3 separate regions of the Homo sapiens genome follow, and all the other regions are linked to region 1. The links come from fine-mapping of genetic effects on gene expression. A gene starts in region 1. Each other region holds a variant in brackets. All regions are shown on one strand. Distances are between the middles of the regions.

Region 1 (8,220 bases):
GGGCTCGGGCTCTGGGTCCGGTTCTGGCTCCAGTTCCGGCTCTGGTTCTGCTTCAGCCTCGGGTTCCAGCTCTGGCTCTGGCTCCGGCTCCGGTTCAGCCTCTTTAGAGGCCTCAGCTTCCAGCTCTGGCTCTGGCTCCTCCGGGGTCCCGGATTGCACCGCCTCGGAGCCCTCAGGGCCCCCGGCCTCGTCAGGGTCTGAAGCTCTGGGCAACCCGGGGCATGTGGTCCCCGAGCCGGGTGCCTCCGGCGTCCAGTGGCCTGGGCATGGAGGGTCATAGCTGCGGTCCCGGTAGCCTGGGGCGGAAGTGGGAGTGACTGAGGCTCAATTTACCCCTGTGCGGTTTCACACTCGCCTACTTCTAGCGGAGACGACAACCCTGCCCTCCCCGGGCCTTTTGTCTGCCCCAGCCCCGTCCCTGCTCTGCCCTAGGCCCCGCCCCGCGCGCTCACCCGGACCCACGTGCTGCCAGTCCCAAGCGGGGTCCGGCGCGCCCGCGGTACGCTGGGCACAGCGTAGCAGCTCCTGGCAGGCGGCCTCGCCCTTGCCCTGCACCAGCAGCAGTAGGCGGCGCACCCTGCGCTCGGCATCAGGCAGTGCATCCAATGCCTCGTACTCTGGCCCGGTGAGCACGCCCCGCGCCAGCAGCGCGTCCAACAGCAGTCCCGAGTCCGCCTGCAGCGTCTCGACCAGGCGTTTCCGCTCGCGGTCGATAGTCTCTGACGGCCGCTCCTGCGCGTTGCCCATTGTCGGGGCTGCATGGGGAAAGGGGAGAGAAGTAATGGGGGGTTGCCCTCCCCGCTGCCCTCGCCGCCTCTGACCACTCCCTCAATGCCCCCAGTGAACACCCAGGCTGGGGTTTAAGTTCACCTCGATCCCAGCCGCCGGACGGCTCCGCAAGCACAGGACCTGGAGGCCAACACGGGGAACTCGGTGTCCTCCTGCCTCTCCAGACGCTCTGTCCTGTCTCCTCCTCAGGCTCCTCCTTCTGTCCCCAAGCGTCAGCCGTGGCTCTCCTCTCCTCCCCTGCCTTTCCCAGGACTGGCATCTACTCTCTGAATGCCCTCCCCAACCAGGACGTCCTGAGCTCCACCCCCGGCAAATCCGAGGCGAGTTCAGACCCCGTTTATCCAAACTAAGGTCTTTCTCTCAAATCTGCTTCCCCACCTAACCAGGCAGAAAAACCTAGGATTGATGCTGATACTCCACACCCAGCTTGCAGACAAGTCCTTTCCAGTCTGACTGCTGAATATTTCTCTCACCATCCTCACCACTTACTAAGTCCAGCCTTCTGCCTCCTGCTTTGGCCCTGCAGAACCCAGGATCAGAGCTCCCTGCTTCCATACTCTATCCTCCAGTCCCCTCTGAACCCAGAGCACAAAGTGCTGAGAGCCTCCCTGCCCCTCTCCCCTTACCTTGACCCTGATATCCAACTTTCCAGGACAAGCCCCGCCTCTACACCCTCCCACCAACACCACCACCATAGTGCAACCCCAATGTAGTCTCCTGGCCCTTCCTGGTCCCCTGATTCCTGAGCAGAGATACCAGAATCTTCTTCAGGCCTAGCTCTGACCAAGATCTCTTGACATCACCTGAGACCCACCTGTCTCCCTACTGAAGCCCTAACTCCTAATGTGACTGTCTCTCTGCTGACCCACCTGGCTCCCTGCTGACCTGGGAATTACCTACAGACATTTGTTGTTTGATCTTGAAGTACCCAAGGCCTAGCTCATACAGGATACCGACAAATACTTGCCGAACTTGGACTGATTTTCCTCCATGGATCGCACTATTTTGAGAGACTTTTTTTTTTTTTTTTTTGAGATGGAGTCTCGCTGTTGCCCAAGCTGGAGTGCAGTGGCGCAATCTTGGCTCACTGCAACCTCCGCCTCCCAGGCTCAAGTGATTCTCGTGCCCAGCCTTTTTTTTTTTTTTTTTTTTTAGAGGTGGGGTCTTGCTATATATATTTTTTGTATTTATTTATTTTAGTGGAGACGGGGTTTCACTATGTTGGCCAGGCTGGTCTTGAACTCCTGACCTCGTGATCCACCTGCCTTGGCCTCCCAAAGTGCTGGGATTACAGGCGTGAGCCACCGCGCCTGTCCTGGTCTTGCTATATTGATCAGGCTGGTCTCGAACTGCTGGCCTCAAGCAATCCTCCCATCTCAGCCTTCCAAAGTGCTGGGATTACCAGCACTTTGTGAACCACCATGTGAACCACCATGCCTGGCTCTTGAGAGACTATCTCTACCAACAGCGGCTATTAGGGAGAGTCAATCTGCTTTATCCATTTTTTTTTTTTTTTTTTGACAGAGTCTCACTCTGTTGCCCAGGCTGGAGTGCAGTGGCACATTCTCTCATCACTGCAACCTCTGCCTCCTGAGTTCAAGCGATTCTTCTGCCTCAGCCTCCCGAGTAGCTGAGATTACAGGTGCCCGCACCACGCTCAGCTAATTTTTTGTGTTTTTAGTTGAGACGGGGTTTCACTATGTTGGCTAGGCTGGTCTCGAACTCCTGACCTCGTGATCCACCCACCTTGGCCTCCCAAAGTGTTGGGATTACAGGCATGAGCCACCGCACCCAGCTGCTTTGTCCATTTATTGTCAACCAAGGATTATGGCCCATTCCTGTGAGTGGCCTGACCCAGCCAGCAAGACCCCCGGCATTAGGAGGCAAAGACATCAGGCCTTGAACCATGCCCTCAGCCCACCCCCACCCTGATAATAACTTCTTCTCCTCCCCGCCTTGGCTTTGTTCACACGGCATCCTCCCATCTCTTCTTCCCTTTGCTGTCCCTCCTCTGCCTCCTTCTCTGGCTCTAGGAGGCTCGGCCTTCTCTGGGAGAGAGGATTTAGTCCTAGCCGCCATCCTGCCTCCCAGGTCTTTCTCAGTACCCTCTGGTGTCACACTATACCTCCCCCGTCACTTCACACCCTGGCTTCCTCCCATTGAAGCCCTTCCCCACCAGGCCGAGACCAGGACTACCCCCTGCCCCTCCATCTCCCTTTATGTCCCGTATGTGATGAATCTTGCTTCTCCACTTCTCAGTGAGTCTCCATCAGCTCCTGCCTTGCCACCCCACCATCGTCACCTCATGTCCTGTAACAGTCCCTCTGAGCCCCTCTCACTCCCATTCTGCCAGGCCCGATAGCACAGTGACTTTGACAACCCTCTGGGCTAGGATTGCTGTTCCCATTTTACAGATGAGGAGACAGGCTCAGAGATTCAGTGGTAAAACTGGAATCTTACTTGCTCCAGCCTGAACTATGAGGAACTGAACTATATTTTCCTGTCTAGCAGAATTCCATCCTAAATACCTATCTACCTCCCCCCCACACCCCACTGCCCATCAGAGACAACCCAAAATATCTGGTCTGGCTACTCTAGCCTCCTCCCACCACCCTGGACAGCCAGGCCCTTCCCAGCTTCCCTCCACCAGCCAGGGATCGGAGAACTCACTATGCCTCTGGCACCTCGGAGCCTTTGCTGATGCTGATCGCTAAGACTGGAATCCTTTTCTCCTCCCTCCGCTCCGTGGACCTATCCATCGTCCAGGACTCAAATGTTCCCTTGTCTACACCAATGCCTAAGTGTCCCAAGGGCTGGTGGTTCCTTCTTCTGTGTACCGTGAACAACACATGCCCTCACTAGTGCATTAACTGACATCATTGCACTGTGTACACGCAGACTCTCCGCTTTCTTCAACTGAGTTTTCCAGAGTGTCCCTCCAATCGGTGGGCAAAGGAAGGGAGAGGGGGACAGCACCTACTCGGGACAGACACAGGGAGGGTGCAGATTGGATTGGCCCCTCCTTCTCTCCAACCTAAGTTGTTTTCATGTTAGCCGCCTCCTCCTATGACCCCAAGTCCTGCCCTTTATCCTGTCTGGGGGTAGAGACTCCAGCTGGTCTGGGCCCTCCCTTTGAGGCTCACACAGCTCTCAATACCGAAGTTATTTAGCGGCCAGTCCTTCGAGGGTGACAGGTCCGATTCTTCCCAGAGAGCCAGGTGGCGGGGCACGGAGCTGGGTCCCAGCCCCCAACCCCACCTCGCTGCGCGGGCTCTTTGGCCAGGAAGCCAGGGTCTTGGGACAGTGAAGAGCCTTTGCGCATGTGCGACTGCACGGATTTTCCCCCCCCGCCCCTTACCTCCCTCCACCCAGTCCCAGAGCTTGAGAGTCCTGCGGCAGGGCGGGGCCCACAGTCCTACCCACCCCGCCCCCCCGACCCCCGAGCGCCGCAGCGGGTGGTGGGGCGCTGATTCTGCCCAATCTCGGTTTCCCTTCCCTCCCACAGCCGGGAGTGGGGCTCCCGGTCTGGCCCGTTTTGGGCGTCCCCACTCACGGGTCAAGCCTCGGCGGGGCAGGAGATGACGGTGCAGAAAGGGCCGGGCAGGGTGGGGGTGGGTGCAGCAGCTGCGGCGGGGGCGGGGCGGCCAGGGCTGCTGGGAATAGGGAGGGTGAGGGTTCTTCCCCGGGCACTAGGAGCCACACCGCGGAGGCCGCGCGCTGGCTGGGGACGTGCATGTAGTCAGCTTTCCCTCCCCACCCGGGGCGCACCAGGAGATGAGGCCAGGAGGGGGCAGTTCGGCCCGCGGCCCCACACGTCCAGCGCCCACTCAGGGCCTGCCAATTTCCAGGTGCTTTCCATCTATCTTGTCATCGACCCCTCTTCTCTGCCTGTCACAGAGGAAGTTCAGAGAAGGATACCAACTCACCAGGATCACAGAACGCATGCATTGCAGAGCTGAGCGCGACCCAGAAGCCCCCGCTTCCCAGAGATTGCAGCGGCCCCGCGCCAGCCCTGGACCCGGGCCTAAGCAAGGGAGCTAGGCACCGGATCCCCAAGCACCTCCACCCTCCTGGGGTTCCTCTATTAAAAACCTAGTATCTGGACGCTTCTACAAATGCAAAATCACCCCCCACCCATAACTCCTGTGCTCCCTGGTCGATAGAGAAAAGAGACCAGAAACAGAAAAAAAAAAAACGGAGTTTATGTGCAGGGATAGTCGGGGTAGTGGAGAGAGGCCATTTAGTAGTGGGGGCTTCGCTCACCCCCGATAGGGGGCGCCAGGAAGCCAAGAAGGATGTGCAGCGGCGGACTGGTTCCAAGCCCCTTCAGAGGCGCGGGGTCTTAGGGGGAGGGACTGGCTTCCGGGCCCAAGTAGGAGGCAGTCCGGCTCTCAGGAGTGCTATAAATGGTTAAAGCCCCAGGCAGGCCCAGGGCTGGGCCTCCCAAGGCCGCCTGGACATCCAGCAGGAGTGGGGCCCCGAGCGTGGGGTCCTTCCCTAGGAGAAGTGGGACTGCGCTCACCAGGGGAAATGTTCCCCCTCCTTTCTTCAGGGAAGGAGAGCCCTGCCCGCCTGCCTTCTGCTCAGTTAGGATAAAACATCCATTCTTAACCTCCCCACTCTCGCCCAATGGTGAGGGCATGGGTGGCTCAAGGAACGCTCTGCAGTGCAGCCTGAACTCAGGATTTCCCTGCAAATTGCAGATTGCCCCCTCACTCAATCAAGGTAGCTCAGCCCAATCACGGCGTCCTCCCAGGTAGGAGTCATCACAACCATTACCTGGGCTTGGAGAATTTAACCCCTTGACCGCCAGCTCAGGCTCACCCCGCTCTGGAACCAAGGGCTGCATCTGCGTGAGAACCGCAGGGAGCAGCTGGGGAGGGGACCTAGCAGCTGAGGGGGACAGCTGGGAAATCACTGTGACAATTCTTCTAGAGACACGGCTTTGGCTCACAGAGAACAGCTATGGACCAGAGGGCTTGACTCAGCCACCCCTGGCCTCTGCCCTCCCCGACCCACTTCTTACCAAGGACAGCTCCATGTCCAAGTCCATCAGGGTCCATTCTCGCCCTTGGAGACTGGGGCCCAGCACCTGAGGAGAGCTCTGGGTCAGTGGTGCCCTCCCCAGGCTCCACAGAGAGCTAGACCCCACCAGGTCTCATGCCCCTGTTTCAGCAGAAGGGGTACTCACATCTAGAGGCCCTGCAGGTTCCACACTTTCTTGAGGGGGCTGAAGCAGCATCGGAGGCAGCAGACTCTCTGGGCTCCTGTCCCCGCTTTCCAGGCCCAGAGGCCCCCTGTGCAGACAGAACTGCTTTTGGCCTGCAGTGTCCACCCCGCATTAAGTTCCCAAGGAACCCAGATGCATCAAGATTTTAATCCCCCAATCTTTAGAAAATGATAGGAGAGGATCCCCATCCTCTCTCCACCCCCAACCTCCCCACTCCTGCCATAAATGGCACAGAGAAAGTGCCTCTGCTTCCTACCTGGGACCTGAAGTTTGGGTGGTGGAGCTGGGGCTTTGGGACCCTTCCCCTCCCTATGCAAGTATCAATATCCATGCTTCTTTCTCTTCTTTCTTTATTTCTTTCTTTCTTCCTTTCTTTTTTCTTTCTCTCTCTCTCTCTCTTTCCTTCTTTCTTTCTTTTCTTTTTTTTGGAGACAGTTTCACTATGTCACCCACTATGTCACTATGGCACTGTCTTGGCTAACTGCAGCCTCCACCTCCCAAGTTCAAGCGACTGTCCTGCCTCAGCCTCCTGAGTAGCTGGGACTACAGGCAAACGCCACCACACCCAGCTAATTTTTGTATTTTTAGCAGAGGCGGGGGGTTTCACCATGTTGGCCAGGCTGGTGTTGAACTCCTGACCTCAAGTGATCTGCCCGCCTCAGCCTCCCAAAGTGCTGGGATTACATGCATGAGCCACCTCATAGCCACCAATGCTTCTTAAACTATTGTGTACTTTGCAGTCACCCCAGGGAACTCATTTCATATGTAGGTTCCTAAGCCCTTCCGCAGATGCTGAGTGCCCTGACTGGGAGGCTCTGCTTTCCACAGAACTCTGATGCTGGGGCCAAGAAATCAGGTGAGTATCATGGAGTCAAATGGCTAGGAAGCTTTGTGGGCTGGTAAGGGCTGTTCTATCACAGGGCTCATGGGCCAGCTGGGGCTCTGCTCACCTGTCAGGTATCTCCCTGGGATCCCCTGGTTCAGGCTGTTGGGCATTCCTGGGCCCCTCGGGGCTGAAGCTCCCTTTCCCTTCCAGGATGGCCTGCACCACAGCCACAGGCAGTGGCGGGGGGGCTGTCACGCAGAAGTCACACTCGTTTGGGGCCAGGGCCAGCCCGGCCTCGCCATCCCCCCCTGGACTGGCCGGCTCTTCTTTGAGCAGTGCCAGGCCCTTCTCCCTGCACCAGAGAAAAGCTTCAACCAGACCCTGGCACTGACTTCTCCCTCTACCCCTACAGCCATCTGGGCTGCCAGGCCCTCCCCCACAGGCCCCTCAGGGGCAGCCCTGTCCCCCTTACCTCCTGCCATCACTGGAGGGAGAAAGCCTGGTCCCCTCAGGGGATGGAGAGTCTTCTGGGATGTCAGAGATGATGGGGCCCCTGGCCCTGTGAGGGCTAAGGCCCAAATTTGTCTCTGGGAGAGGCTGTAAGTAGAAGGCTAGGCCCAGCCCTTGGCCTGTAGGCACAGGGAGAGCCAGAACCCCACCAACACCCACCTGGGCCAGGTCTAAGGGAGAAGGTTTGAGGGAGGAGGCTCAGTCCATGCTGGAGGGCCTGGGTCTGGTTGGGGGGAAGGCTGGCTTCCATCTTCTCTTCCTTTTAGGGGATGGGGAGAAGGAACAGGCTCTCCATAAGCCCAGCCATGCCCTTGGGAAGGGGGAAGAAGACAAACCTACCGACTGGATGAAGTAGGGGTCCTGCAGAAGGGCACCAGGTAGAGGGCAGGTGTTGAACTTGGCAGGTGTTGGGCATGAGCTCCCCTCATCCAGCATCAGGGACCTGTGTGGTCGATCAGGGCACAGGCAGGGGTGGGGCAGGGTCAGCCCCCATGCACCTCGGCCTGCACTTCCCTCCCTCCCTCAGGCCCCAGCAGCCAAGTCAGCAGAGCTGAGGCCTGTTGCTAGGGTGTCAGTCACATGCTGGAGGTGGAAGGGGCTCCCCCTAGAGATGGGGGCCCTTTGTGGGTAGAGAGGGGAGGGAGGGAACCTGGTTTGAGCCCCAGGGTCTCAGCTGTTGGGAAGCCTTGCCGGAGGGGGAAGGGGCTGCTGGGGTAGGAATTTGGGAATAAGGTCCTGGAATGGGAGGATCTGGGAGTGGGGATACCAGGTGGCAGAGTTGGGGGGAAGTGGATCCTAGATGGGGTGAGGAAGCCTGTAGCGCAGGGGGAGGAATGAGGATTCCCGGTGAAGGAGTTTCCAGAGG
Region 2 (11,031 bases), 400 kb before region 1:
TGCCATTCCCTCTTCTAGGAATATACAAGCAATTCTCTATGTTTACACTAGTACACGAGCCTAAAGATGTGTATATAAGAAGGCTATCTACTACTAGGGTATTTTTCTCTAATGGCAAAAGATTAAAAACAAGCTGGGCGTGGTGGCTCATACCTGTAATCCCAGCACTTCAGGAAGCCTGGGCAGTTGGGAGGCCAGGGCAATTGGGAGGCCGAGGCAGGTGGATCACCTGAGGTCAGGAGTTTGAGACCAGCCTGGCCAACATGACGAAACCCTGTATCTACTAAAAATACAAAAATTAGCCGGGCATGGTGGCATGTGCCCATAATCCCAGCTACTCGGGAGGCTGAGACAAGAGAATCGCTTAAACCTGAGAAGCAAGGATTGCAGTGAGCCGAGATCACGGCACTGCACTCCAGCCTAGGTGACAGAGCAGCAAGACTCCGTCTCAAATAAAAAAAAAACAAAAAAAAACAAAGATTGAAAACAACTCAAACGTCTAGAACAACGTGTATAGTAAGCTACTATTTGTGCTTTATTTTTTATTTTTATTATTTATTTATTTATTTTGAGACGGAGTTTCACTCTTGTTGCCCAGGCTGGAGTGCAATGGCGATCTCGGCTCACTGCAACCTCCACCTCCCAGGTTCAAGCGATTCTCCTGCCTCAGCCTCCCGAGTAGCTGAGATTACAGGCGTGTGCCACCACACTCCGCTAATTTTTGTATTTTTAGTAGAGATGGGGTTTCACCATGTTGGTCAGGCTGGTCTTGAACTCCTGACCTCAGGTGATCCACGCACCTTGGCCTCCCAAAGTGCTGGGATTACAGGCGTGAGCCACCACGCCCGGCCTTTTATTTTTATTTATTTATTTTTGAGACGAAGTCTTGCTCTTGTCCCCCAGGCTGGAGTGCAATGGTGCAATCTCGGCTCACTGCAACCTCCACTTCCCGGGTTGAAGCGATTCTCCTGCCTCAGCCACCTGAGTAGCTGAGATTACAGGCGCCTGCCACCACGCCCAGCTAATTTTTGTATTTTTAGTAGAGATGGGGTTTCACCATGTTGGCCAGGCTGGTCTCGAATTCCTGACCTCAGGTGATCCGCCTGCCTCGGCCTCCCAAAATGCTGAGATTACAGGCGTGAGACACCATGCCCGGCCTATTTGTGCTTTTTTAAAAAGATACATAAACTTGGCCAGGCACATTGGCTCATGCTTGTAATCACAGCAATTTGGGAGGCCGAGGTGGGTGGAACACTTGAGGCCAGGAGTTCGAGACCAGCCTGGCCAACACGGTGAAATCCCATCTCTACTAAAACTACAAAAATTCGCTGGGCATGGCCGCACATGTGTGTAATCTCAGCTACTTGGGAGGCTGAGGCACAAGAATCACTTCAACTCAGGAGGTAGAGGTTGCAGTGAGCCAAGATCACGTGTCTCACTCCAGCCTGGGCAACAGAGTGAAAACCCTGTCTCAAAAAAAAAAAAAAAAAAAAAAAAAGATACATAAACTCATACATTTGAATATACGCAGAATTTTCTTTGGATGGATACATCAGAAATTGGTATTTATTGCCTCTGAGGAAGAAAAATGAGAGATCAGAGGCAAGACTGAGGATTACTTTTCATTATTAACATTTTGCACTGTTTGAAGTATTTCCCCCTCATGTTCTTACATTAAATGTGGTGGTTACAGAAAATTTCCATAGCACAATTATATTTTGTTTAAAAAGTTGTATTATATGTACATGCCTGTTAATAAAAGTGCAAAGTCAACACACCAGACTATTAATAGTCTTCAGCTCTGGGAAAACAAAGTTAAGGGATTCTTTAGGTTCTAATGTAATTCTACAATCATTAGACTCTTCCAAAGAATGAAACTAAACATTACTTGGGTAATATTTAAACAAAGTTTAAGACCAAATTTAAGTGAGGATCACTGCAAGAACTGCCTCTGCAACCTCAATCCCCTCTAACAGCTGGGCAGATGCAGGAGCTTCCTCCTGCCTTACTCTCCTCCTGGCTGCACTTCTATAACTGTTCCAGTGGCCCTCTCGATTCCACTCAAGAAGTCTAGACTGGCTGGGAGCGGTGGCTCACGCCTGTAATCCCAGCACTTTGGGAGGCCGAGGTGGACGGATCACAAGGTCAGGAGATGATGAGACCATCCTGGCTAACACAGTGAAATCCCGTCTCTACTAAAAAAAATACAAAAAAAAAAATTAGGCAGGCGTGGTGGCAGGCGCCTGTAGTCCCAGCTACTCAGGAGGCTGAGGCGGGGGAATGACATGAACCCGGGAGGCGGAGCTTGCAGTGAGCCAATATCGCACCACTGCACTCCAGCCTGGGCAACAGAGCGAGACTCCATCTCAAAAAATAAAAAAAAAAAAAGAAGTCTAGACATTACTGCCAAGTAAACTAGGCAAAAACACCTTTTATCATTTCATTATCCTTTTTTTTTTTTTTTTTGAGACAGAGCCTCCCAGGTTCACACCATTCTCCCACCTCAACCTCCTCAAGTAGCTGGGACTACAGGCGCCCGCCACCATGCCTGGCTAATTTTTGTATTTTTAGTAGAAACGGGGTTTCACTGTGTTAGCCAGGATGGTGTCGATCTCCTGACCTCGTGATCCGCCCACCTCGGCCTCCCGAAGTGCTGGGATTACAGGTGTGAGCCACCACGCCCGGCCCATTTCATTACCTTTATCAGAAAGTTTCAGTGCTACTTCCTACTGTACTGCATTCCCTTTTCCTTTAAAAATTATGCAATACAGGCAACAGGAGAAAGCTTAAAGAAACCTACCTATAGGTTTTATACACACATTCTGGCTTATATCCAAATTCGCAGTCCCCTCCCCAATATATACATATACTTACTCTCACGAGATCATACCATACATATTGTTTGATAATCTGCTTTCTTTGTACTTTGTTTCAAATATCTTGCCATTTCAACATATTTTTTATACATAATGGCTACACAACATTCTATTATAAGGCCAGGCACGGTGGCTCACGCCTGTAATCCCAGCACTTTCGGAGGCAGAGGCAGGCGGATTACGAGGTCAGGAGATCCAGACCATCCTGGCTAACATGGTGAAACCCCATCTCTACTAAAAACACAAAAAATTAGCGGTTCTAGCTACTCAGGAGGCTGAGGCAAGAGAATGGTGTGAAGCCGGGAGGCGGAGTTTGCAGTGAGCAGAGATCGTGCCACTGCACTCCAGCCTAGGTGACAGAGGGAGACACCATCTCAAAAAAAAAAAAAAAAAAAAACATTCTATTATAGGGATGTATCATAATTTAACCAGTCACCTATTGTTAAATATTTTTATAGCCAGATTTTGGTAATTCTGCTTTAATCTAAGAAAAGAAAAAAAGTATTTGCATTAAAAAAAATTACACAAACTATACAAAACCAACAAAAAGTGACCCCCAAACCAAACTACCCTCACACTACTAGTTTTGACTGATGATTTCCACGTCTGTTTAGTCTTTTTTCCCTAGGCATTCATTCATCCAAATAATTACTTATTGAGCTTCTGCTATACGCCAGGTTTTAGTTTGGGATTTTCTTTACTTTTATTCCATAATAATTAACTTTTTGGTATTATGCTATTAAAAAACCTCTCTCATAAGCATTTTGCTGGTTAACAGCCTTCCGTTTTTTTTTTTTTTTTTTTTTTAAGACAGGGTCTCACTCTGTCACCCAGGCTAGAGTGCATGCAGCCTTAACCTCCTGGGCTCAGGTGATCCTCCCATCTCAGCCTCCCAAGTAGCTGAGACTACAGGTGTGCACCACCACACCTGGCTACATTTTTTTTTTTTTTTTTTTTTACAGACAAGGTCTCACTAAGTTGCCCAGGCTGACATTCATCTTTTTAAATGGGTTAGGGTTTTATATCCCTTGCAACATGCAACGAGACCTTGTTTTCTTACCCACTTCTCTACTGCTCAACAGATTTTCTGATAAATCTAACCCATTTTCCTATGGCACAATATTTCCGTTTAGTTCATTAACATTTGTATTATCTGGTGGTCATCGAAGTTCAGTTTAATGCAAAATATATACAATAACCAACTTGGCTGGGCGCGGTGGCTCACGCTTGTAATCCCAGCACTTTGGGAGGCCAAGGTGGGCGGATCACCTGAGGTCAGGAGTTTGAGACCAGCCCAGCCAATATGGTGAAACCCCGTCTCTACTAAAAATACAAAAATTAGCTAGACATGGTGGCGCACCTGTAGTCCTAGCTATTCAGGAGGCTGAGGCAGGAGAATCGGTTGAACCCGGGAAGCAGAGGCTGCAGTGAGCCGAGATTGCACCACTGCACTCCAGCCTGGCGACAGAGCGAGACTCCATCTCTCAAAAAAAAAGAGGAAAGGGAAGCCCAAGGAAGTCACCTCTAATAGAACTGCCCTGCCCAAGGCCATATAGCTATTAAGCTGCATGGCCAGGACTTGGAGTCCTAATGGGATTAAAATAAAATTCATCCTCCCAAAGTGCTGGGATTATAAGCATGAGCCACCACGCCCAGCCTCAGAAAACTTAATTCTTACTTACTTATTTGTTTATTGAGACAGGGTCTTACTCTGTCACCCAGGCTGAATGAAATGCAGTGGTGGGACCAC[G/A]GCTCATTGCAACCTCAACCTTCTCAGCTCAGACGATCCTCCGGCCTCAGCCTCCTGAATAGCTAGGACTACAGGCATGCAACACAACGCGTGACTAAAGAAAATGTAATTCTTTTTTTTTCCTCTATCCACAAGGACATATGGAAAAAATGTAATTCTTAAATGCCACTTATGTTAAGAGCAATATGTTAATAACAATACTTAGTAATTGTAAAACACACAGTTAAGAATAGATGCTTTTGGCTGGGCGCAGTGGCTCACGCCTGTAATCCCAGCACTTTGGGAGGCCGAGGCAGGCAGATCAAGAGGTCAGGAGATCAAGACCATCCTGGCTGACAAGGTGAAACTCTGTCTCTGCTAAAAATACAAAAATTAGCTGGGTGTGGTGGTGGGCGCATGTAGTCTCAGCTACTTGGGAGGCCGAGGCAGGAGAATGGTGTGAACCTGGGATGCGGAGCTTGCAGTGAGCCAAGATTGCACCACTGCACTTCAGCCTGGGCAACAGAGCAAGACTCCATCTCAAAAAAAAAAAAAAAAAAAAAAAAAAGATGCTTTTGGCTGGGCGTGGTGGTTCATGCCTGTAATCCCAGCACTTTGGGAGGCCGAACTGGGTGGATCACCTGAGGTCAGGAGTTTGAGACCAGCCTGGCCAACATGGCAAAACCCCATCTCTACTAAAAATACCAAAATTAGCCAGGCGTGGGGGTGAACGCCTGTAATCCCAGCTACTCGGGAGACTGAGGCAGGAGAACTGCTTGAACCTGGGAGGGGGAAGTTGCAGTGAGCCGAGATCACGCCACTGCACTCCAGCCTGGGCGACACAGTGAGATTGTCTCAAAAATAAATAAATAAAGTAGTCCTCTTAACAAACTGGCAAATCTAAAGAAGTGTTTCCTTGAGGTCTGTGAACTGCTTTAGCAAACTAATGGAACCCAAGAAAGAGGTCGTGGGAAACTCAACTTGAAGCCAGTTGGTCAGAAGCTCTGAAGGAATGGGCTTGTGACTGGTAGGAAGGACAGGTGGTCTTATGGGACTGAACCCTAAACGTGTGGGATCTGACACCATCTTGGGTAGATGGTGTTGGATGACACCTAGTTGGCATACACTGTTTGGTGTGTGAGGAAAATCCCTCCACCCCATCTTTGGTCACGTAAGTCTTTTTTTTTTTGAGATGGAGTCTCGCCTTGTCGCCAAGCCAGAGTACAGTGGCATGATCTCGGCTCACTGCAACTTCCGCCTCCCGGGTTCAAGCGATTCTCCTGCCTCAGCCTCCCCAGTAACTGGAACTACAGGCACGCACCACAACGCCCGGCTAAATTTTGTATTTTTAGTAGAGATGGGATTTCACCATGTTGGTCAGGATGGTCTCAATCTCTTGGACTTGCAATCTGCCCACCTTGGCCTCCCAAAGTGCTAGGATTACAGGCATGAGCCACTGGGCCCAGCCACGTAAGTCTTCTTTTGTGTTGATGGTGGTTGTTATGTGAAAGCAAAGGAAAAACCTGGGCTTGAGAGTTTTTCCCTACACAAATACTACAAGGACAAAGTAAGGAGCAGGATAGCAGAGCTGTTCTATAGCTCAAATGTATTGCTTCTCAAACATATCCACTATAGAACCTATACAGAGAGAACTTCCCACCCTCAGGCACTCATGCTCATTTTGTTGAAGACCTATGTTATCTTAATCATACAGTTTTCATTCTGCTCCAAAAATGTCTATTTGTTTTAATATAACAATATTTAATATTTATTTATTTATTTATTTTTTGAGACGGTCTTGCTCTGTCACCCAGTCTGGAGTGCAGTGGTGTGATCTTGGCTCACTGCAACCTCTGCCTGCCTCCTGGTTCAGGTGATTCTCCTGCCTCAGCCTCCCGAGTAGTTGGGATTACAGGCACGCACCACCACACCCAGCTAATTGTCTTCTTGGGGTTTTTTTTGTTGTTTTTTTGAGACAGAGTCTCACTCTGTTGCCTGGGCTGGAGTGCAGTGATTTCAACTCATTGCAACCTCCGCCTCCCAGGTTCAAACAATTCTTCTGCCTCAGCCTCCCGAGAAACTGGCATTACAGGTTCCCGCCACTACACCCAGCTAATTTTTTGTATTTTTAGTAGAGACGGGGTTTCACCATGTTGGCCAGGCTGGTCCCGAACTCCTGACCTTGTGATCCGCCCACCTCAGCCTCCCAAAGTTCTGGGATTACAGGCGTGAGCCACCGCGCCCAGTCTTTTGTTGTTTTGGGGGGGGGGGCGGGGGGGGGCAGACAGAGTCACTCTGTCGCCCAGGGTGGAGTGCAGTGACACAATCCTGGCTCACTGCAACCTCTGCTTCCCAGGTTTAAGCGATTTTCCTGCCTCAGCCTCCCAAGTAGCTGGGATTACAGGCACCCACCACCACACTCGGCTAGTTTTTATATTTTTAGTAGAGATGGGGTTTTACCATGTTGGCCAGGCTGGTCTGGAACTCCTGACCTCAAGTGATCTACCTGCCTTGGCCTCCCAAAGTACTAGGATTACTGGGATTTTGGAGGCCTTGGCCTTCCAATGTACTGGGTGTGAGCTACCGTGCCTGGCCAATATTTAATATTTAATCACTGACCAGTTAAATTACTTAACTCACCACCTCCTCTATGACTATAACTGAAGTTCTAGGAAGATGGGTCATGTTTATCTTTCTTGTGACTCCAAGTACCCCGAAATCATACCACCTGATTCCCTAAGGGTATTCATATCCCAGTTTGAGAAACAGGGATCTAAGCAATTAAGCTAGTCATAACACTTGAAAGTGATTAACGTGTTCCTATAAACCCATTCCCTAAACTCTTAAAGGTTCGATTTCTCAATAGTTTTTAAATCAGCAACTTTTGGTATGCACTCTGTGTCAACACTCCTAAAAGAACCTGCAGGGCGTAAGTTATTTTTGGAGTGACAGAATACTACCACAGACCTTCTCCTTCCCATCTAGCAGGATAACAAGTTGCCCATTTGGAAAATAAAGGTTTGAAGAATAACAGAACTTTCATTCCTATTCCCTTCTCTTTATTTGCTCCAGGCAGAGCTTGTAAGAAAAATCTTAGTAGTCATTTAGATGATTCATTCACATAAGCTTATCTAATCCTGGCATTTGTAATTTCCACTTCTACATTCCTTTTTGCCATTACACATGTACGATTAAATTATTTTCACATTTTTCTAGGGTCTGAAAAAAATGTGCTTTCCGGTACCGTGAGAAGAGATAATTTTTACAACCAGAATCCCACTTTGTTGTTTATGAGATCCCAAAGCATAGTAGATTCCAATATTTATAGAAGGTCTGTTCCAAGTTCCATATAATGTCCATTATATTTTATAGCAAAAATTACAGGCTAAATTAAAATGATAATCACTGTCACACTCTGACGCAAAATGGGCAATGAGCTAGGCTAACTCAAATTAAGACAATTTTTATCCAGGATACCAGGTTCCCCAAGAACAGGATTCCATCTGTTTCTTATCAAAATTACAAGTAGCCACAGGTCATGGACTTTCTTTTCAGTTCATTTGCCAATAGTCAAAATACACATTCCAAGGGTTTCTACAGAAAAGCAGCCACAATTTCCTGGGATCTTTCTATGTACATGTTCAGAATAGTACTTAAAGCTTTACAAAACACATTCTCATTAACGGAGAATAGTCTCTGAGATTGGTGGTGTTATTCTCTCACAAGTGAGGACTACAGGAGTAGACAGGTTAAAGTAACTTGCCCCATATTACCCAGCTAGTATATCATCGTAAAGAGTTTCAAACCCAGGACTCTGATTATGAAGCCTGTATGCTCTCAATCACCTGATATCCTGCATCCCCTATATTCAAGAATTAGCCAACAAATCCTCCAACTCCAGGAGGGTTATATTACTACCATTTTTAAGATAGAAAAAATGGAAATAGCACTTACCTCTCCGTGGCTGCAAAGTCAGTTTGAGGAGGGAAAATAGAACCCAGCTCTCAAGCCCCTGGTCAGCAATCTGTCCACTAGCGCATCTTGTTCTTTGGCTTCAGGTCCGTAATCATTCTAAAAGAAAAGCACAAATCATTTTATGAAACACTAAATTCATACAAATACGCATATAGTATGAAAAAAAATGAGGGAAAACTGAAGACAGAAAAAATTGGGAAAGAAACAAAACACCTGTTCATGTCATGTCACTAACCGAGCCATTCCATAAATGTCCACCATCAAGCCAATAACAAAACATTCATTTATTTTTTCACACATTTGCTAAATATATAAAGGACTAAAGGTTTCTAAGTAGCAAAATAGTACTCCAGGCTCACACCAGTAATCTTAACGCTTTCGGAAGCCAGGGTGGGAGACTCACCCAGGAGTTTGAGGCTGTACTGAGCTGAGATTGTGCCACTGCATTCCAGCCTGCTTGACAGAGTGAGAGATCTTGTCTCAAAAAAAAAAAAAAAAAAAAAGGCCAGGCGCGGTGGCTCATGCCTGTAATCCCAGCACTTTGGGAGGCCAAGGCGGGCAGATCACGAGGTCAGGAGATCGAGACCAGCCTGGCTAACATGGTGAAACCCCGTCTGTACTAAAAATACAAAAAATTAGCCGGGTGTGGTGGCAGGCGCCTGTAGTACCAGCTACTTGGGAGGCTGAGAATGGTGCAAACCTGGGAGGCAGAGCATGCAGTGAGCCGAGATCGCACCACGGCACTCCAGCCTGGGCGACAGAGCGAGACTCCGTCTCAAAAAAAAAAACAAAACAAAACACTCCACTGCAATATTGCAACCAAATAATGGCACACATATTCAAACTACCAAAAAATTAATTATTGGCTGGGCGCAGTGGCTTACGCCTGTAATCCCAGCACTTTGGGAGGCCGAGGCAGACAGATCACGAGGTCAGCAGATCAAGACCATCCTGGCTAACACGTGAGACCCCGTCTCTACTAAAAATACAAAGAAAAAAATTAGCCGGGTGTGGTGGCGGGTGCCTGTAGTCCCAGCTACTCAGGAGACTGAGGCAGGAGAATGGCATGAACCCGGGAGGCGGAGCTTGCAGTGAGCCGAGATCCTGCCACTGCATTCCAGCCTGGGCAACACAGCGAGACTCCGTCTCAAAAAAAAAAAAAAAAAATTAATTCTTATGGCTGCAGTAATGGCTCTCTAACAGTTTATTTCCGTATCTTTAGCAAGTAGTGGTCTTACTGATTAAGTTTGTTCATGCCACAAGTAAAGGCTATGCTTTCCAGTTTAGTAAGATAACTGGGGAAGCCAAGGCAGGTGGATCACCTGAGGTCAGGAGTTTGAGAACAGCCTGACCAACATGGCGAAACCCCATCTCTACTAAAAATACAAAAATTAGCCAGGCGTGGTGGCACACGCCTGTAATCCCAGCTATTCAGGAGGCTGAGGCAGGAGAATCGCCTGAACCCAGGAGCCGGAGGTTGGAATGAGCCGAGATCGCGCCACTGCACTCCAGCCTGGGCGACAGAGCTAGACTCCGTCTCATTAAAAAAAAAAAAAGATAACTGGCAAAAGGAGCTTTTACTGACCTTTGAAAATCCTAGAAGCATAGCAATGAAACAGTTTTTTTAGTCGAATAACGGAATACTTTGTTAGATGGCATCTTTTCACCCTAAATTACAAAATGAACTGTCAAGCTTCAAGCAAAGGTAGAGTGGAACCTACCTCTAAAGAAAAAGAAAGAAAGAAAGAAAGAAAATCCCAGGCCAGGCACAATGGCTCACACCTGTAATCCCAGCACTTTGGGAGGCCAAAGCGGGCGGATCACGAGGTCAAGAGATTGAGACCATCCTGGCCAACATAGTGAAACCCCGTCTCTACTAAAAATACAAAAATTAGCTGGGCATGGTGGTGCAGGCCTGTAAACCCAGCTACTCAGGAGGCTGAGGCAGGAGAATCGTTTGAACCCAGGAGGCGGAGCTGCAATGAGCCAAGATCGTGCCACTGCACTCCAGCCTGGCGACAGAGTGAGACTCTGTCTCAAAAAAAGAATAAAATAAAATCCCAAATGAAATAAAGAGCTAAATTTGAACTAAGTGTTTCCAAATAGGCCAGGCACAGTGGTTCACGCCTGTAATCCCAGCACTTTGGGAAGCCAAGGCAGGCGGATCACAAGGTCAGGAGTTCAAGACCAGCCTGACCAACATAGTGGAACCTTGTCTCTACTAAAAAAAATACAAAAATTAACCAGGCGTAGTGGTGTGTGCCAGTTATCCCAGCTATTCAGGAGGCTGGGGCAGGAGAATCGCTTGAACCCAGGAAGCAGAGGTTTCAGTGAGCCAAGATCACACCACTGCACTCCAGCCTGGGCAACAGAGCAAGACTCAGTCTCAAAAAAAAAAAGAGTTTCCAAATAATATAGCCAGGTGTGATGGCTCACACCAGCAATCCAGCA
Region 3 (11,031 bases), 840 kb before region 1:
CTCAGGTAGGCTGGCATGGGGAGACGTACTGCCTGGTTGGTGGCTACCGGGTCCATGGGGATGCTCCTTTGGCCACCCCAACAAAGGCTGAAGCAGAGAAGCCAGCCCCCAGGCGTGCTCCCAAGAGACGTCAAGCTACGATAGAGTCAGATAAAGACCTGGGTTGCTCTAGCCCCAAAATTCGGCGCTTGGAGCATCGTGGCAGGAGACTGACCCCACAGAAGCTTGCTGGCTGAGCCATTTGGGAGAAAGGACAAATGTTTAGCTGTCTAAGACAGCTAATGCCTCTTCTGCGGTGACCTCCCCTGCCCACCACTGCAGATAGAGCCTGAGTCATTCTGCCTATGCCTTCCTCATCCAGAAGCCCCCTTCCATGCTAACTACCCATGGCCAAGGAGCCTCAGAAACTGTGGTTTAAAATGAGAGGTTGCTTTGAACATCCCAAGGCTGAAGACGGCCTGGAAGAAAACCTGATGTTCCTCTACTCATCTCTCCAGAGTCCCTTTTTGGGCAGAAGATAGAAATAGTCTGCACTCTGCTAGCCGAGGAGTCAAGTGCAGAGAGGGAGTGCAGCATAGCCCAGTAAGGGCTTGATCTACCAGATGGGTCTTTGCTTTGAGTCACTGCCAGCAACTACCAGCACAAACCAGGAGGGCCAGGACTTGCTGAAACTGGAAGCAGCAGCCCATGGCTAGTCACAGCAGGAGAAAGCCTCCTGCTTGGCATCTCAGGAGGTAGAAGAAAGAGACCTGGGGAGACCTGCCACCTACAGCAAGAACAATAAGGAGGAAGTTGAGCAACATCCCCCTGAAGCTCACATGTTACTTTATTTCCTGCCCATTATGGCCCCAGTGAGGTCCCTACTGCTCAATTTAAAAAAAAATTAAAAAAATTATTTTTCCATAACAGTATTTGACTTGATCATCTTTTTTTTTTTTCTTTTTTGACGGAGTCTCACTCTGTCACCCAGGCTGGCGTGCAGTGGCACTATCTCGGCTCCCTGCAAGCTCCACCTCCTGGGTTCACGCCATTCTCCTGCCTCAGCCTCCCTGGTAGCTGGGACTACAGGCGCCCGCCACCACACCCAGCCAATTTTTGTATTTTTAGCAGAGACGGGGTTTCACCATGTTGGCCAGGATGGTCTTGATCTCCTGACCTCAAGATCTGCCCGCGTTGGCCTCCCAAAGTTCTGGGATTATAGGCATGAGCCACCATACCCAGCCTCTTTCTTCCTCCTCTTCTTATTCTTCTTCCTTCTTCCTTCTTTCTTCTTCTTCTCCTTCTCCTTCTCCTCCTTCTTCTTCCTCTTTTCTCTCTCTCTCTTAGATGGGGTCTCGGCCAGGCACAGTGGCTCAGTCCTGTAATCCCTGCACTTTGGGACGCTGAGGCAGTGGATCACCTAAGGTCAGAAGTTTGAGACCAGCCTGGCCAGCACAATGAAACCCCATCTTACTAAAAATACAAAAAATTGGCCAGGCGTGGTGGCTCACGCCTGTAATCCCAGCACTTTGGGAGGCCGAGGTGGGCGGATCACGAGGTCAGGAGATTGCGACCATCCTAACATGGTGAAACCCCATCTCTACTAAAAAATACAAAAAATTAGCCAGGCGTGGTGGCGGGTGCCTGTAGTCCCAGCTACTCGGGAGGCTGAGGCAGGAGAATGGCATGAACCCGGGAGGCAGAGCTTGTGGTGAGCCGAGATAGTGCCACTGCACTAAAGCCTGGGCGACATCCGTATCAAAACAAAAAAAAAAATACAAAAACTTAACTGGTCATGGTGGTGGGCACTTGTAATCCCAGCTACTCAGGAACCTCAGGCAGGAGAATCACTTGAACCTGGGAGGCAAAGGTTGCAGTGAGCCGAGATCATGCCACTGCACTCCAATCTGGGCAACAAGAGTGAAACTCTGTCTAAAAAAAAATAAAAAAAAAAAGGCCAGGCGCTGTGGCTCACACCTGTAATCCCAACACTTTGGGAGGCAGAGGCGGGCGGATCACAAGGTCAGGAGATCAAGACCATCCTGACTAACACAGTGAAACCCCGTCTCTCCTAAAAATACAAAAAATTAGTCAGTTGTGGTGGCAGGCACCTGTAGTCTCAGCTACTTGAGAGGCTGAGGCAGGAGAATGGCATGAACCCGGGAGGCGGAGCTTGCAGTAAGCCAAGATCACGCCACTGCACTCCAGCCTAGGCGACAGAGCGACACTCCATCTCAAAAAAAAAAAAAAAAAAGATGGGGTCTTGCCGTGTTGTCCAGGCTGGTCTTGAACTCCTGGGCTCAAGTGACCCATCTGCCTCAGCCTCCCAAATAAATAAAAATTTAAAAAAGAAACGCAGAGCCTGGCCGGCCACAGTGGCTCACATCTGTAATCCCAATACTTTGGGAGGCCAAGATGGGAGAATTGCTTGAAGCCAGGAGTTCAAGACGAGCTTGGGCAAGTAGTGAGATCCTGTCTCTACAAAAATAAAAATAATTAGTTAGGTATGGTGGGGTGCACCTATAGTCCTAGCCATCTGGGGGGCTGAGGCGTGAGGATCGCTTAAAGCCAGGAGTTGAAGGCTGCAGTAAGCTATGATCATACCACTGCATTTCAGCAGTCTGGGTGACTGGGTGACACAACGAGACCCTGTCTCAAAAAAGAAAGAAAAAAAGAAAAGCTAAAAAAATGTAGAGCCCAGTGAGTGTTTCCGTGTGTGTGTGTGTGTTTTAGAGAGTGTTAGGAGAGGGACAAAATAACTAAGAAGATGCTGCTCCATCTATCCACTCATCCATTCATTCATTTATTCAACAAGTATTTATTGGGCACTTTTTTTTTTTGTTTGACACAGAGTTTTCTCTCCTGTTGCCCAGGCTAGAGTGCAGTGGCACGATCTCGGCTCACTGCAGCCTCCGCCTTCCGAGTTCAAGCGATTCTCCTGCCTCAGCCTCCTGAGTAGCCGGGACTACAGGGGCACACCCCCACACCCGGCTAATTTTTGTATTTTTAGTAGAGATGGGATTCACCATATCGGTCAGGCTGGTCTCGAACTCGTAACCTCAGGCGATCCACCCACCAAAGTGCTGGGATTACAGACATAAGCCACCGCACCCGGCCTATTGAGCACTTCTTACATACCAGCCACTGTGCTGGTTGCTTGGGATATATTGGTGAATGAGAAACTCCTCCCCTCAAGGCACCCACAAACAATATAATTTGTTCATAGAGACAAACAATATAATTTTTGTTGTTGTTGTTGTAGTTGTTTTTCTTGAGACGGAGTCTCGCTCTGTCACCCAGTCTGGAGTGGCGCGATCTAGGCTCACTGCAAGCTCTGCCTCCTGGGTTCACGCCATTGTCCTGCCTCAGCCTCCCCAAACAATATAATTTTAGATAACTATAACTGGTATAAAGAAAAATGAAACTGGATAAGAGAATACAGTAATGAGGTGTGCTGTGTTACACCAGGTGGTTAGGGAAGGCTTCTCTGAGATGATGACATTGTGGCTGAGATGTGAGGGAATCGTGAGGAGTAGAAGGGAGAGCATTACTGGAGGAAATTTCAAGTATAATGGTAAGAATGAGACTGATCCATTTTTTCTTTTTTTGAGGTGGGGTCTCACTTTGTCTCCCAGGATGGCGTACAATGGTGCGACCTTGGCTCGTTGCAACCTCTGCCTCTCAGGTTCAAGTGATTCTCCTGCCTCAGCCTCCTGAGTAGCTGGGACTAGAGGCACATGCCACTACACTCGGCTAATTTTTGTGTTTTTAGTAGAGATGGGGTTTCACTATGTTTGCCAGGCTGGTCTTAAACTGCAGACCTCAGGTAATCCGCCAGCGTTGGCCTCCCAGGGTGCTAGGATTACAGGTGTGAGCCAACACACCCGGCCTACAAGACTGACCAATTTGAGGGCCAGCAGAAAGGCCAGTGTGGCCAGGGAAGAAAGATAGAGGAGATTGAAAGATGTGGTGGCTGGGAGGCCAAGGAGGGAGGGTCACTTGAGCCCAGGAGTTTGAGACCAGCCTGGCAACATAGGGAGGTGCCCTTTCTACAAAAAATCAAAAAATCAGCTGGGTGTGGTGGTGAATGCCTGTGGTCCCTAGCTACTCAGGAGGCTGAGGCAGGAGGATTGCTTGAGCCTAGGAGGTATAGGCTGCAACGAGCCATGATCCTGCCACTGCACTCCAGCCTAGGCAACGAGTGAGACTCTGTCAGAAAGAAAGAAAGGAAGGAAGGAAGGAAGGAAAGATGGAAGGAAGGAAGGAAGGAAGGAAGGAAGGAAGGAAGGAAGGAAGGAAGGAAGGAAGGAAGGAAAAAAAAATAAGATGGTTGGAGGCCAGGTGCAGTGGCTCACTCCTGTAATTCCAGCAATTTGGGAGGCTGAGGCTAGTGGATCACCTGAGGTCAGGAGTTCGAGACTAGCCTGGCCAACATGGTGAAACCCTGTCTCTACTAAAAAATACAAAAATTAGCTGGGTGTGGTGGCAGGCGCCTTAATCCCAGCTACTTGGGAGGCAGAGGCAGGAGAATCATTTGAACCCGGGAGGCGAAGGCTGCAGTGAGCCGAGATCGAGCCATTGCACTCAAGCCTGAGGGACAAGAGTGAGACTTGTCTCAAAAAAAAAAAGAAAGAAAAGAAAAAGGTGGTTGGAGAAGTAAGGAAGTAAGCAAGTAAGCATGGGCCAGACCATAGTGGGCCGTGCCAGCCACGGTAAGGACAGTGGATCTTGTTTTAAGTATATTGGGAAGTCATGGAGGAATCTGAATAAGGTAGGGAAGTAATCTGATATAGATGCTAAAAAGATCCGTCTGACTGCTGCGTGCCATGGTAGTGAGGTGCTGGCTGTTACCAGGGGGACTGTCTCTCTCTGCAGCTGGGACAGCTGGTGCTGGGGACTGGGGGATGGAGGAGCAGTCAGCAGAGAAGAAACACCATGACGTTTGTCCCAAGTCTGCCTGTATCAGCAGCCCAGAAAAAGGCGGCACTGTCAGCAACTCACTTGTCCTTAGGGGTCCCAGCAGCAAGACTGTTGCTCCTCCCCCCAACACGCATACCATGGAGGCCAGGAAAGGTCCTGATAGGTTTTCCTAACTTGGGTTAAAGGAAGGAGGCACAGGCCCTGGGCTCCCAGAAAGTTCCCTGTGAGAGTCTCCATTAACCCCCAGAGTCTCTCATCCGTGGCGTGACTGAAGCAGATTTGTGGTTCCTGGATGGCCTGGATAGTTTGGCAGTTCCCAAAGCTGAAACAAATAGACTCAACTGGGGCTCTTAAAAAAGAGTGATCCCGGCCAGGCGCAGTGGCTCACACCTGTAATCCCAGCACTTTGGGAGGCCAAGGCGGGGAGATCACGAGGTCAGGAGATCGAGACCATCCTGGCTAACACGGTGAAACTCCGTCTCTACTAAAAAATACAAAAAAAAAAAAAAAATTAGCCAGGTGTGGTGGTGGGTGCCTGTAGTCCCAGCTACGCGGGAAGCTGAGGCAGGAAAATGGCATGAACCCGGGAGGCGGAGCTTGCAGTGAGCTGAGATCGCGCCATTGCACTCCAGCCTGGGTGACAGAGCGAGACTCGGTCTTAAAAAAAAAAAAGTGATCCCCAGCACCCACACCAGTCTAAAGTTTTAGGGTACTGGCCTAGAAATCCACAGTATTAAAAGCTTCCCCTCAGCTGGCCATGGTGGCTCATGGCTGTAATCCCAGCACTTTGGGAGGCTGAGGTGGGAGGATTGCTTGAGCCCAAGAGTTCGAGACCAGCCTGGGCAACACAGCAGCACTCCATCTCTACAAAAAATATTAACAGTAAAGAATTAGAAAAAAAAATTTTAAATAAATAAAAGCTTGCCTTAACTACCAGTTTATAGAAAACACAAGGACACAGGAACATGTTAAATGACACCATGAGATGCAATCAGAAAACTCTACAACATGGAAAACTCTAACGGACAAGGACGTGATTTTTTCAACAAAGAAATTGCAAGGAAGACAAAAAAAAGAAGAACCTGAAGATTGAGTCATAACAACCATTTACAATGTGGGCGGTCTGAGCTCCATTACAGTTCAAACCAATGAATTATTTAAAAATTGGACAATCAGATAAATTTGAACATGATAGATAATTTATGATACTAAAGAATTGGGCTGGGCACGGTGGCTCATGCCTGTAATCCCAGCACTTTGGGAGGCAGAGGTGGGCGGATGACATGAAGTCAGGAATTCAAGACCAGCTTGACCAACATAATGAAACCCCGTCACTACTAAAAATACAAAAAAATTAGCCAGGTGTGTTAATGCGTGCCTGTAATC[C/G]CAGCTACTTGGGAGGCTGAGGCAGAAGAATCCCTTGAACCTGGGAGGTAGAAGTTGCAGAGAGCCAAGACCACGCCATTGCACTCCAGCCTGGGCAACAAAAACAAAACTCCGTCTCAAAAAAAAAAAAAAAAAAAGGCCGGGCGTGGTGGCTCACACCTGTAATCCCAGCACTTTGGGGAGGCCGAGGCGGGTGGATCACAAGGTCAGGAGATTGAGACCATCCTGGCTAACATGGTGAAACCCCATCTCTACTAAAAATACAAAAAATTAGCCAGGCGTGGTGGCAGACACCTGTAGTCCCAGCTACTCGGGAGGCTGAGGCAGGAGAATGGCATAAACCCGAGAGGCGGAGCTTGCAGTGAGCCGAGATGGCGCCACTGCACTCCAACCTGGGCGACAGAGCGAGACTCCATCTCAAAAAAAAAAAAAAAAGTGGCTGGGTGTGGTGGCTCATGCCTGTAATCACAGCACTTTGGGAGGCCAAAGAGGGAGGACTGCTTGAGCCCAGGAGTTCGTCACCAGCCTGGGGAATAAAACAGGACCCTGTCTCGGCCAGGCGCGGTGGCTCATGCCTGTAATCCCAGCACTTTGGGAGGCCGAGGCGGGTGGATCACGAGGTTAGGAGATCGAGACCATCCTGGCTAACATGGTGAAACCCCGTCTCTACTGAAAATACAAAAAAATTAGCTGGGCATGGTGGCGGGTGCCTGTAGTCCCAGCTACTCGGAAGGCGAGGCAGGAGAATGGCGTGAACGCAGGAGGCGGAGTTTGCAGTGAGCCGACATCACCCCACTGCGCTCCAGCCTGGGCAACAGAGGGAGACTCTGTCTCAAAAAAAAAAGACCCTGTCTCTACAAATTTTAAAAGAAAAGTACTGTTAACTTTTATAAGGGTCATAATGGTATGGTAATTGCCATTTATTTATATATTTATTTATTTTATTTTATTTTTCAGAAACAGGGTTTTAGTATGCTGCCCAGGCTGGCCTCAAACTCCTGGGCTCAAGCAATCCTCCTGTTTCAGCCTCCCAAATAGCTAGTAGGACTACAGGAATGGCCCAGTGCACCTGGCTTATAGTTGTCTTTTAAAAACAGCCATTACCATTTATTTATTTATTTATTTAGAGACTGAGTCTTTCTCTGCTGCCCAGGCTGGAGTACAGTGGCATGATCTCAGCTCACTGCAATCTCTGCCTCCTGGGTTCAAGCAGTTCTCCTGTCTCAGACTCCTGAGTAGCTGGGATTATAGGTGTCCTCCACGACAACCAGCTAATTTTTGTATTTTTAGCAGAGATGGGGTTCGCTATGTTAGCCAGGCTGGTCTCCAACTCCTGACCTCAGGTGATCCACCCACCTCAAGCTTCCAAAGTGCTGTGATTTCAGGCAAGAGCCACGTGCCCAGCCTAAAAAGAGCCCTTACCTTTTAGAGAGGCATACTTAAAAATGGATGAAATAGATGTCTATGATTTGCTTTAAAATAATCTGTAGAAAGAGGTGAGTGAGAGCATAAATGAAATAAGATGAGCCATCAGTTGGTAATCTTTGAAACTGGGTGATGGCTACATGGGAGTTAATACACTTTTCTCTCTCCTTTCTCATGTATTTGCAATTTTTCCTATAAAAAGTTTTTTGGTCTGGGCACAGTGGCTCATGCCTGTAATCCCAACACTGTGGGAGGCTAAGGTGGGAGGATCACTTGAGACCAGGGGTTTGAGACCAGCCTGGCAACATGGTGAAATCCCATCTCTACCAAAAAAAAAAAAAAAATTAGCTGGGTGTGGTGGCACCACCCTGTAGTCCCTGCTACTCGGGAAGCTGAGGTGAGAGGATCACCTGAGCCCCGAATTTGAGGCTACAGTGAGCCATGACGGCACCACTGCACTCCAGCCTAGGCCACAGAGGGAGATACAGTTTCAAAAAAAAAGTTTTGTGTTGTTGTTTTTAACTAAGCTTCTCAGATTCACCCAGATGCGGAGTCAGTGAGATCTCACATGGTCAGCTTCACAGGAGGGCAGGCTTTCTGCATAAAAACAGGAAGCTTAGAGAGCTCCGGGGCAGGGTGTGCTGTGACTTCACTGTGTTTTTGCAGAAACAGGTCTGATAGCCCTCGGAGATCAGCAGACAAGGTTAAGCAAGAGACAGCAAGTCTGAATTTGAGGTTAAATGTGAAATCACACATGTTGTCTAGATGTTTGGTCAGCACTGGCTCCTGGATCTTGGGGGCCTCTACAGAGCCCACCCTCCACCCCCATGTGCTTATGCCAGCACATGTGATAGCTGGAGACTTATCCAGCCACCTCACTGCACACCCCAGCAAATGGCCAGCACCAGTGGGTGATCAGGAAATGATGCCCGGACAAACTGATAGATGTAAGGAATTTGAGGCTGGGCACAGTGGCTCACGCCTGTAATCCTAGCACTCTGGGAGACTGAGGTGGGCAGATCCCTTGAGGTCATGAGTTTGAGACCAGCCTGGCCAACATGGAGAAACCCCTGTCTCTACTAAAAATAAAAAAATTAGCCAGGCATGGTGGCGTGCGCCTGTAATCCCAGGAAGCTGAGGTAAGGAATTTGAGGCCTTTCCTAGAGGCAGCAGCTGGAAGTGGAGGGATTGAAGGAACCCCTCATCTGACCAGCTGCTCAATTTTCTTACCCACACGATAAGGCTGGTTCCTTAACTACACGGCCACGTGAAAAAAACAAAAAACAGGGCCAGGCACAGCGGCTCATGCCTATATTCCAGTACTTTGGGAGGCTGATGTGGGAGGATCACTTGAGGCCCGGAGTTCGAGACCAGCCTGGACAACATGACAAAACCCCATCGCTACTAAAAATGTGAATATTTAGCTGGGAGTGGTGGTGGGTGCCTGTATTCCTGGTTACTCTGGAGGATGAGGTATGAGAATCCCTTGAACCCTGGAGGCAGAAGTTGCAGCGAGCCGAGATTGCGCCACTGCACTCCAGCCTGAGCAACAGAGCAAGACTTCATCTCAAAAAAAAAAGAAAAAGAAAAAAAACACAATTTTGGGTCCAGGCCCTCTGGGAAGATGACTGCAGTACAAGGGGCCAAGGTTAAAGTGGATGGTGGTGAGTCAAAACTGAGCAAGAACAAGCCGAAGAGATACCTGAAAGCCGAGAAGAAAGTGGCAGAGAAGGCAGCCAAGCAGTAAGAGCTCAGTGAGAAACAGCTAAGCCCAGGTCACTGCTGCTGCCACCAACCATACCACTGACAATGGTGTGGGTCCTGAGGAGGAGAGCCTGGACCCAAATCAGTACTACAAGATCCACAGCCAAGGCCAGGCCCGGTGGTTCACTCCTGTAATCCTAGCACTTTGGGAGGCTGAGGCAGGCAGATCACTTGAAGTCAGGGGTTCGAGGCCAGCCTGGCCAACATGATGAAACCCCATCTCTACTAAAAATACAAAAATTAGCTGGGCATGGTGGCACATGCCTGTAATTCCAGCTACTTGGGAGGCTGAGGTAGGAGAATCGCTTGAATCTGGGAGGTGGAGGTTGCAGTGAGCTGAGATTGAGCCACTGCACTCCAGCCTGGGCAACAGAGCGAGACTCTGTCTCAAAAAAAAAAAAAAAAAAAAAGATTTGCAGTCAGGTAGGTCAATGGGAAAGACCCATACCCCAACGAGATCCATGTAGACATCTCCCTCACTGACTTCATCCCAGAATATTGTCACCTGCAAACTGGGGATCTCCTGACTGATATCACCTTAAACGTGACAGATAGGATCCATGCCAAAAAAGCTTTTGGAGGAAAGCTGAACTTCTATGATCTTTTTTTTTTTTTTTTTGAGATGGAATTTCACTATTGTTGCCCAGGCTGGAATGCAATGGCACAATCTCAGCTCACTGCAACCTCCTCCTCCCTAGGTTTAAGCAATTCTCCTGCCTCAGCCTCCCTAGTAGCTGGGATTACAGGCGTGCGCCACCACGCCCGGCTAATTTTGTATTTTTAGTAGAGGTGAGGTTTCTCCATGTTGGTCAGGCTGATCTCGAACTCCCAACCTCAGGTGATCTGCCTGCCTGCCTTGGCCTCCCAAAGTGCTGGGATTATAGGCGTGAGACACAGTGCCCAGCCATGAACTTCTATGATCTTTGAGCAGAGGGGGTCAAGTTGCAAGTCATGGCCAATTTCAGGAATTATAATTTCAGGAAGAATAATTTATTCATATTAATAACAAACTGCGTTGGGGAAACATAATTGGAATTCAGAGGAATCCTGGGAAAAACCAAGAAGGATGAGCTGAGCTTCATTCCCTATGAGATCACACTGCTGTGGCCTTGCTTGTATATGTTACCTCATCTTCACTTTGGCCTCAAAGACAAGGAAATAAGGTATGGTCAGAGATACTTGGACTTGATCCTGAATGAATGAGGCAGAAATTTATCATCTGCTGTAAGATCATCACATGTATAATAAGTTTCTTAGGCCAGGTGCAGTGGCTCACGCCTGTAATCCCAGCACTTTGGGAGGCCAAGGCAGGCAGATTGCCTGAGGTCAGGAGTTCGAGACCAGTCTGGACGACATGGTAAAACCCCACCTCTACTAAAAATACAAAAATTAGATGGGCGTGGTGGCAGGTGCCTATAATCCTAGCTACTCAGGAGGCTGAAGCAGAATTACTTGAACCCAGGAGGTGGAGGTTGCAGTAAGCCAAGATTGCACCACTATACTCCAGCCTGAGCAACAAGAAAACTCCATCTCAAAAAAAAAAAAAAAGTTTCTTGG

What was found. PIP is the estimated chance that this variant, and not a neighbour inherited with it, causes the effect.
Region 2: its variant is fine-mapped to the expression of NOL3 in whole blood (TOPMed, PIP 0.99).
Region 3: its variant is fine-mapped to the expression of NOL3 in whole blood (TOPMed, PIP above 0.99).

Annotation. Positions count from the first base shown.
Region 1 is chr16:67,166,697-67,174,916 of GRCh38, reverse strand. It overlaps NOL3 (nucleolar protein 3), which reads right to left and starts at 4,379. Exons shown (of 4, transcript NM_001276309.3): 1 at 4,343-4,379; 2 at 453-755; 3 at 1-296. The coding sequence starts at 747. HSF4 (heat shock transcription factor 4) reads right to left here. Exons shown (of 13, transcript NM_001374675.1): 7 at 7,695-7,797; 8 at 7,318-7,442; 9 at 6,970-7,197; 10 at 5,981-6,086; 11 at 5,816-5,881; 12 at 5,569-5,638; 13 at 4,976-5,286. The coding sequence ends at 5,132. RefSeq lists silencers at 333-592, 2,329-2,492, 4,133-4,422 and enhancers at 490-1,412, 4,633-4,782, 5,273-5,322.
Region 2 is chr16:67,568,793-67,579,823 of GRCh38, reverse strand. It overlaps CTCF (CCCTC-binding factor), which reads right to left. Exons shown (of 12, transcript NM_006565.4): 2 at 8,560-8,676. Among named protein-coding and RNA genes, the nearest start is that of CTCF, 12 kb to the right of the region's middle. The variant G/A (reference allele first, on the strand shown) is at 4,627.
Region 3 is chr16:68,003,313-68,014,343 of GRCh38, reverse strand. It overlaps DPEP2NB (DPEP2 neighbor), which reads left to right. Exons shown (of 2, transcript NM_001282442.2): 2 at 1-908. The coding sequence ends at 236. It also overlaps the pseudogene KARS1P3. Among named protein-coding and RNA genes, the nearest start is that of DPEP2NB, 7.1 kb to the left of the region's middle. RefSeq lists an enhancer at 6,985-7,758. The variant C/G (reference allele first, on the strand shown) is at 6,286.